Homo sapiens: one gene and its partner. The protein of the gene in region 1 purifies or fractionates together with the protein of each later gene. This does not show direct contact. Each region holds a gene or a part of one and is shown on either strand. Other genes may lie near its edges.

What was found. The genes of interacting proteins can lie anywhere in the genome.
Region 2: the proteins of KBTBD8 (region 1) and RRP15 purify together in Homo sapiens (affinity purification with western blotting; one study listed by BioGRID). This does not show direct contact.

Annotation. Positions count from the first base shown.
Region 1 is NC_000003.12:67,000,797-67,005,415, reverse strand, and holds part of KBTBD8 (kelch repeat and BTB domain-containing protein 8), read right to left. Parts: intron 2,222-4,619; coding exon 1,107-2,221; intron 1-1,106. UniProt on the Homo sapiens protein: Substrate-specific adapter of a BCR (BTB-CUL3-RBX1) E3 ubiquitin ligase complex that acts as a regulator of neural crest specification.
Region 2 is NC_000001.11:218,283,974-218,288,651, reverse strand, and holds the start of RRP15 (RRP15-like protein), read right to left. Parts: upstream 3,360-4,678; 5' UTR 3,336-3,359; coding exon 3,197-3,335; intron 1-3,196.

The sequences.
Region 1 (4,619 bases):
TGGGAAGCATTTTTGTATCTAAACATATCTAAACATGGAACAAGTACAGTAAAAATATGCTATCATAATCTTATAGGACCACCATTGTGTATGTGATCCATCATTGACCAAAACATTACATGGCACATGACTGTATATCTTCATAGAAGCTGCTCCTTTTCCTTAAGTAGTAGTGTGAGAAAAACATCAATTAAGAGACACATACGAGGAATAAGGATGTTGCTATTATCTACACTGCATTAAACATTCAAGCAACTAAAATGTGTAAGAAACCAAATAAAAGGAAAATAGTTATCACAAATCAGAGCCTTGAATCAAATGTCTTATTTACTCTGACTCAGTCACTCTACCTCTACTGTATTTTTGCCAAAGTAGTAGTCCTTAACAGTTAAAAAAACAAACAGAAAACAAAACAAAACAAACACTACATATATCAGATAGTCCCACTTAAAATGGCAAACCAAAAAAAAGGGACATCTCAAAGTTTTCCGGTGAAAAAAATTGAAAATGTATTATGAAAGGCAACATAAACAGCAGTGAAGGTGAAACTTGAAGACCATACTTCCAAACTCTTTGTAATTAAATTTCATAATTTTTGCAATAATAAGGCTTATATAAAACTCTTTGGTAACTAAATAGTATAACTTAATTAATGCTTTGTTCTTTTCTCTTTTAAACTAATCCAGTAAATTCCACAGAATACCAGTTGCTACAACATCTCAATTTTACTCAAGAGCAAAAACAGCCATGTAACAACCTTGCTATTTATTTCAAGTCCTACAAACTACTCTGAAATAGTTATCCCAAAATGCCGAACTATTATTTATTAAAGAATGTTTTCAAAAATAGTTATTCTACATGATATCAAGACACAAAATCATTAAAAATTATAGGATTATTTTAGTAATTTAACAATACCTGCCTTTTTTTAATTCAAGAGTTTATTTTCTTTATAGCTCTTTACAGAACAGACTGTTCCAATAGTTTGATAAGGAAGCTGGAGGTATTCCTCAATTAACGGGAACACAACTGTTTCAGTATAATTAAGTAAACCACCACTTGATGTGTTACCCTTCCATGAAAAACTAAATCACTTAGGCACCTACCCTGTAAAACATAGATCTTCTCTTTGTACTCCACAGCATTATGAAATTCCATTGCAACTGGCATCGCGCAAACAGTCGTCCAACAATTCTCTCTACTGTCGTAGCACTCAACAGATTTTAGTGAGTTTCTCCCATCACCTTCATAAACACGACCTCCGATTGCATACATTTTACCACAGCAATAGACAAGTTTGCAGCCTATTCTGGCTCGAAGCAAGGATGGTTTGGATAGCCATCTATTGGTGGAATGATCATACATCCAGAAATCATTTTCTGCCTTATGGTCGATGGAGACCTCACTGCTGCTTGGCCTGTACCCTCCTGCAATGTAAATGTCATTATCTGGTGATACAAGAATCCCAACTTCTCTCAGGTCATTTGGTGGTTTGCATAGTTTAAACACCCTTCCTGTGACTATATCTAGACAAGGCACTGTTTGCTTCTTTCCTGAGTGTTTGTGGGCAGCATCAAAACATATGATCATTTCAGAAGCAGTCATTCCAAGCCTCTGTGTACAGCCATTGGTGTTGGATGGTCCCTTTTCTACACAGCTTTTGGCTATAGCCTGTGCAAACTGAGGTGGAATTTTCTCTATAAAGGTATCTTCCATCAGAGGAAAACGTATGCATTTAGCAAAAATTTCTGGAAGGTGCACTTCTCTTTCATTCTGTTCATGCTCAAACCACCTTATAATGCTTTCATAAACATGCTCTTCTCGGTCTACATTTAAATCGTCACTGTCTAGTATACTTATCAGTTGGTCTTTTGTCAACTGGAGAAACTCTTGTTCTTTGGTGACACACAGAAACTTTTTACGAATGTATTCTTTTGATCGATCTCCGAGTTCCTGATGACCATAATGATCAGCAAAGATAAAGACCCCAATAGAATTCTGTGGGTCCAAATGACTGATCATATACTTAGCACATTGGTCTTGGATGGAAGGAATCTGGAAGATGCTAGCTGCAGTGAACAAGGCTTGAACATTGGCCTCTGTAAGAATAACTCTGGAAGTGTAGGCATAGTTCAACACTAAATCCATCGATTCAGCTTCAACACCAACTATTCGAACTTCTTTTTGAGTACTTTCTGTAAGGCCGCTAGTGAACATGGATCTAAGAAGGAAAGAGTGGTTAATATTACACGTGTGCTATAAATCAAAATTATTGTGGCAAGATTTTAAAAGTACAAAGTTACCACAAAGATAACCTTTTGAAACAGAATATTTCCTAAAATAGTCCCTGATATTCTGAATAGGAGTAAAAATTGATAATGTATCAGAAGGATTTAGTCTGGCTAACCTCAAAACCCATATTCTCAGGGCTAGCTCGCTGTGTGCCAACTATGAAAAAAGGAGAGTACACCTAAGTAAATGCAAATCAAAAGGTGACACACATATTCCAGGTCACTTTATTTTCCTAGAAGCCCCTATCCAGAGTTCTGGTCAAGTTGCCTTAGGGACATCAGATCTTAAATTGGGCCATGCCAGTCAGAAAGCTTAAGAATACTGGCCCGGTGTGGTGGCTCATGCCTGTAATTCCAGCACTTTAGGAGGCCAAAGTGGGTGGATCACATAAGGTCAGGAGTTCAAAATCTGCCTGGCCAAGACGGTGAAACCCCATCTCTACTAAAATAAAAAATTAGCTGGGCGTGGTGGCACATCCCTGTAATCCCAGCTACTCAGGAGGCTGAGGCAGGAGAATCGCTTGAACCCGGAAGGCGGAGGTTGCAGTGAGCTGAGTGCCAGCCTGGAAGACAGAGTGAGACTCCATCTCAAAAAAAAAAAAAAAAAAAAAAGAATACCTATAAAGGTATCAACATGATACATTAGCATACAAAGAAACAACCTAATAAAAACTTTTCATGTCCTGGTGAAAATTACAAGGCAACTTGTATCCAAAATATATCTTTAAAATGTTCATCTTAGAAAAGCAAGAAGTTCTTTAAAAGTACATATTCTCCACCTACTCCTTTTTAAAACTGTCATCTTTTGAATGCTGCCTTAACCATTATAAGTAATATAATAATCACTTCACTTACCCTTGGAAATTTTGAGAACATTTGCTTAAAAGGAAATACTTCATTTTCTCAAAGATACCATATTTTACCTACCTAAATCTAGACATAAATAAAGATTATGGTAGAGTCAATACATAATGCCTGTTTTAAACAGAGTTTAATAGTTAACTGATTCTTTGAAGATAATGGTTTTTAAAACCCCAAACTTTTACCTTCGAGACCAAGTTGGTTTTTTCTATTATTAAAATATTGTTGCATTTATGGGATTTTCTTGACCGAAACATTAAGCAGCCTGGCTCTTTAAGTATTAGTCACTTGCAAACATCATTTGCCTTTCTTTTCGCTCCTTTAAAGTTTCATTCTAGATGATCCAGACTCATCCTATTTAATTTTTGTGATCTTATGAAAAATGAATTGCAAAGATTTCCAGTCACTTAAAAAATATCTCTCAAATTCATGGAATTAATTTTAAAATGCAGTATGAGAAACACTGGAGGTACAAGGACTCAACTTGCTGCCCAGGTTAATCATCTTCGAGTCCTGTTTTTACTTCTACAATGTACATTTTAATTTAGTATCACACTGGCTTTTTTGATGACTAAAAACTAGATGTTCCTACGTATGTGCTGGTTTTCAATTCAGGTGCTGAAAGACTCACCGATACAGCTACCAATTAAAAAGAAAAATAAAGCCCTGCATTAGGGAGACATTAACTCCCAAAGGAAGACATTACCACATATCCCTTTATCATGGGAACTACTGCTGACTTGAATAGGCTCATCTTACACACAGGAGTGGTCTCACACTTCATGAGTTTTCCTCTGTTCTAGTAAGTTCTTCATGTAAACTCAACATAAATGAAGCCAGGGCACTTCCTCACACAAAATCCAGAGCAGCAAAAAATTTCTAATAATCATACAAATTTCAATTCTGATGAGTTACTGGTATCATGAAACAGCCATTCCAGATTTCCAGCCGTTCTAATTCTTCCACTAGTGATGCAAGACGTAGAAACATTAAGTACGATTTTCTACATCCCACACAGGAAGCAGCGCTGGTACCAAGAAACTTCAGTACAAAAACCTCTAGCAAGAGATCAAATTCTAATCCTTGAGGTTTCTAGCCAAATATCTTTATTTCAATGCACATATCGTATCCCCAGAAAATTTCTCAAGTATTTTTTACTCCTTTTAAAAATTGACTTAACAAAATTAAAGAATTTAAGATTTTAAGGAATCAAGAAAATTAGAAATCTATCATAGCATACTTCTTTTAAAGTAAAATTTTTTTCCAGGTCTTCAAAAATAAAAAATGAAACTGCAAGGTGAAAATGTCATACTTATGTAAAGTTACTAATAAGTATACTTACTAAGTATTATACTTAATAAGTATACTTAATATGTATACATATATCATATTTATTATGTATGCTTACTAAGTATTATACTTAATAAGTATACTTAGTAAGCATACATAAGTATGACATTTAAATGA
Region 2 (4,678 bases), on another chromosome or scaffold:
AAACATATTAAGGTAGTGGTCAAGAGCATAAGCTCTACAATCAAACTTCAATAATTGTTGTATCATTTATCAACTTGCTTATCTGCTTATGTACAGAAGTGGGCAAGTTATAAGCCTCTGTGCCTCAGTTTTTTAAATGTAACAGGAGGATAATAGCAGCATCTATCTCATAGAGTTGTCAGAATTCTCTGAGCTGATATATAGAAGGAACTCAGAACAGAACCAGGCACATAGGAAAGTTCCAAAAGTATAACTATTGTTATTATCCAATTCCTCTAACAGTGTAGTATGCCCAAAACCTATGGTGCTATAAGCTCACATGAAAGTTGCCTGTTTGCAAAATTGAATACTTTCTTTTTGAAAAATATTTCAAGTGGGGCCCTTCTCTGTCTTCACTGCTGTGTCCTAGTGCAGATCCTAACATAGAATTTTGCAATTGCCTACAAACTGTCCTGGCACTCTTTGGCAGTCACCGTACATCTGGCAGTAATATTTATAAACAACTGTCACCATCTTGCTTAAAAGTTCTCAATAGCTCCCTGCTGCCTACAAATACACAAGGCCCTTTATAATCTACTTTTAACCATTGTTTCCAGTTTTACTTCTAGTCACTTCTCTGAACAGCTGGAGCCATAACAGAAGATTACTTTGTCTGAAATAGGCCATGAATTTTAAGAGACCGCATGCCACTGTATATGCTTTTATGTCTGAGAAAACTGCCCTCTATACTCCCAGGTCAGGAAAACTATTCATCCTTCTAAAGCCTAGATAGAATGCCACCTTATACATTTATTCAACAAAACAATTTACTGAATACTAAAGTATGCAAAGAAGACCCTGTGAAAATAAACAAGACATACTTTTGACATTTGGGGAACTTATCTCTATAAGGAGAGAGATATGTTAAAATATAATAACATAGTATATTATCAATAATACACGTAAGATATAAGTAAGCAACGCCTAGGCTGGGTTCCAGAGGATATGAATTTCTCTGTCTCCATCCTTACCTTTCCAAAATTGAACCATGATCTTGAAAACTACCTTTTAATTATACTAATACACTATATTACAGTCCTGTGTTTAATATCTTTCCTAAAACTGAAATTTTAATGCAGAAATATATTCATCCTTTGTATCCTCAACACCTAGAGGGTGACTGGAACCTAAGGGAACACAACAAGTGTTCATTGAATTGAATTAGATAAATTAGGTTTCCATATTGGCCAAAAACCTTTTTAACCCGTAATGTGGCTGATCTATAACAGCAAGAGAACCTTAAAACCTAATCAGCATTTATAATAATACGCTGAAAAGTCAGAACAGTTCCAACTTGGAATTATCCAGTATTTGAATAGAAAAATCCAATTTGGCCAGGTGTGCTGGCTCACACCTGTAATCTCAGCACTTTGGGAGGCCGAGACGGGTGGATCACTTGAACCTAGGAGTTCGAGACATGCCTGGGCAACATGGCAAAATCCCATCTCTACCAAAAAAAAAAAAAAAAAAGAAAAAAAAAATTAGCCAGGTACAGTGGTATGCGCCTGTAGTCCTAGCTACCTGGGGAAGCTGAAGCAAGAGGATCGCTTTGGGGGGCGGTGGGGGAGGAGGTCAAGGTTGCAGTGAGCCCTGTTTGTGCCACTGCACTCTAGCCTGGGTGGCAAAGCAAGACCCTGTCTCAAAAAGAAAAAGAAAAATCCAATTTGTAAGCAGTACTGACATTTTGCTCCAAATATAGCAAATATAGTACTCTTCCCTTCTTGAACAATAGTGTTTGAACTAGTCTAATGAATTTAAAAAATATCAGAACCAGAAGTTCTAATTTTGGCCCAACAAATAGTTTGTTTTCCTTAACAATGTGGCAGGAGATGAAGACTCTAATTACCTAGGAATTGCAGTAGCATATGACACTTTCTTCTTGGTCCTGGAAGTCCAGGTTAATTCATTCATTTACTTAAATATCTGTGAAGGACCCACAAGGCAATAGGAACTGGGGATACAGTAGGCTCTATTTTTATGGAACTTATATTCCAATTGGGAAAGCAGCAAATACATACATCAAATGGTTTGGGCAGGGTTGAGAAAAAATAAAGCAGGGCAATAAGTCAAAAAGTGAAGAAAAGAAGGCAGGAAGAAGAGTAGTGGTGGTACGTTACATAGGGTAGTCAGGGACAAGTCTCTCTGGTAAGGCACTGGATCAGAGGCTGGTGAGGGAGAGACATGCCAAGCATTTGAAAACTATTCTAGGCAGCGGAGCCAACAAATGAAGAAACCATGGTGTGGGAGCATGTTTAAGGTGTTAAACACAAGCATACCGGTATGGCATGATTACAGTTAGTGGTTTGTGAGGGGCATATTGGCCTATGACAGACAACCTGGCCCAAATCATACAGCCTAAGGATTTTGGATATTATATACTGAGATGAGAAGCCACTGGATCATCTCAAACAGACAGCGGGCATAATTAGAAATACGTTATAAAAGAATAGCTCTGTCTGTTTTTTGGGTATCAGCTGGTACAAAGGAGCAATAACTGGGCAGTAGGAAGTCAGGGATTACCTGCAATTCCTTGTAACCTAATAAGCTGGTGCCAAGAATGATGGTAAAGAGGAGCAACAGACACAGCATGGTTGAAAGCCTCAAAAACACATCCTTCCTTCCTTTTATTATCAAGCGTCTCTGAGAGACATAGTTATCAAACACTACCAGTTTTTAATCGACCTTAACCACCAAACTCTTCTTTCATTCACTATTATTTAGTCTCTAAAACACGCACACATCTACCGCACAAAAAGTCAAGTACACCCCCTTCTTCCTCTTACCTCTTTTAACCTTTTGCTTCTTACACCCTATGAGACCCATTCTTCTCCTGTTTTCAAGTACCCTCTTCCTTTCACCCTTTGCTACTGTAAGTTTCTCGGTAGCTGCAGGTGTTTCACCCATTTTATTATAATTAATAATGGTGACCCTGAAAATACCTAGTAAAAGAATGTGGAAACTCAAAATTACAGTTGACAGCGTTACTTCTCTGAACACGACTTCCCCAAGCCTCCTCACTAAGCCAAAGTCGCCCCTCTGAAGTGGTGCCAAGATAAAACCCAGGTGGCTAGCAGCAAATGAAGTCGCAAGCGCTGCTTGACACGAACTCAGCCCCGCCTTTCCTCCCAGACACCAAAGCTCAGCCCTACCACATTACCTTCACTATCAGAAGTGTCTGTGGCCTCGTCTTCCAGCACCGACGCTACGGCTCCAGTTACCATTTTCATCTTCTTCTTTGGGGTCTTTTTCAGGTTTTCTTCCTCACTCACACGTGAGTCCGGAGCGGCGGCTGCCATTTTTCTGCGCCGGAAGCGTCACCTGACAGTTGCGTCCGGTGGCAACCAGAGGAACTTCTGCATTTAGTGCCGGTAACACAAGGTTCCGGGGCGGGGTCGTCTAGCCCAGAGTTCCGGGGCCGGAGCCTCAGAATGTGACTTGGAGAGAGCTCTGAATGGCTCGGTGTGTTTACGCGAAGTCCGTTCCAGGACGAAAATCAGCGGCTGAATGGCCTCAGCCGACTCCTCCGCTAGCTCGCCTGTGCCCTGGTCCTCCGCCCCAGTGCGTCCCCAGCCCGTCCCCAGCCCAGCGCGGTCCACTTTGATTTCCTAGCCTCGGCGGCTTCCCTTGTCTGCTGCCTTAATGTTGGTTTAGTGTCCTCCTCAGGTGTCTCTTACGTGCCCACTGAACGCCGCAGCAGCTAGGACGCGGGACAGATCCACTGGGGGCCGATAATTAGAATACGATCGTATCATCCCCCCGCCCAAGATAACACGCGAGACCTTTCTTGCAAACCGAATAGACTCACCTTCTTTCCCTGGGGCGGGTGTTGAATCCAACCGCACCCTTCTCCCTCGGACCCGGCTGGGGCCTGGAGGGTTTCTGGCGCCCGACTGCGCAGTGCAGACCGAGGGTGCGAATACCTTGCTATCCGCGCGAGGATCCTGCCTCCCACCCGGGGCTAGCTTTTCTCTGAAGTTAGCCTCTGTCACCAGCTCCTAGTTCCATCGAAGCACCTACCACAGTCGGCCTTCATTTTCCCCCCTAAAATGTTGGCTTCTCGCAGGAGGGGAACGTATTTCATTTACCATGTCCCCTCAAGGTTAGCAACAGAAGTTGGCCTGAAGTGAATTTTCCAAAAATATTTTTGGAAGGGATGAATGAATCAATGAATGAGTGACAGAATATAACTATTGACAAAGTTAATGACTCAGATGGATAATGCAGCAAACCTTTACTGGCTAGACTTGTTCTAAAGGCTTTCCCCAAACTTAGCGTTTTCCCTTTCCCCTCTTAAGGAGGTTCATAGATTGTGATACCCATAAGTCAAAAACAAAAACAAGAATCCTCATTTTGACATATTCCAGTAGATGTTTATGTAGGAAATAAATATATATTCACATCCTAAAAACTCAATACAACATTTTTAAACTTGGTTTTTAATTTTTTTGTCTTTTAAGAGAGAGAGGGTCTAGCCGGGTGCGGTGGCTCACACCTGTAATCCCAGCACTTTGGGAGGCTGAGATAAGTGGATCGCTTGAGTCCAGGAGTTTGAGAACAGCCTGGCCAACATGGTGAAACCCCATCTCTACTAAAAATACACAAATTAGCCAAACGCAGTGACGAGTGCCTGTAGTCCCAG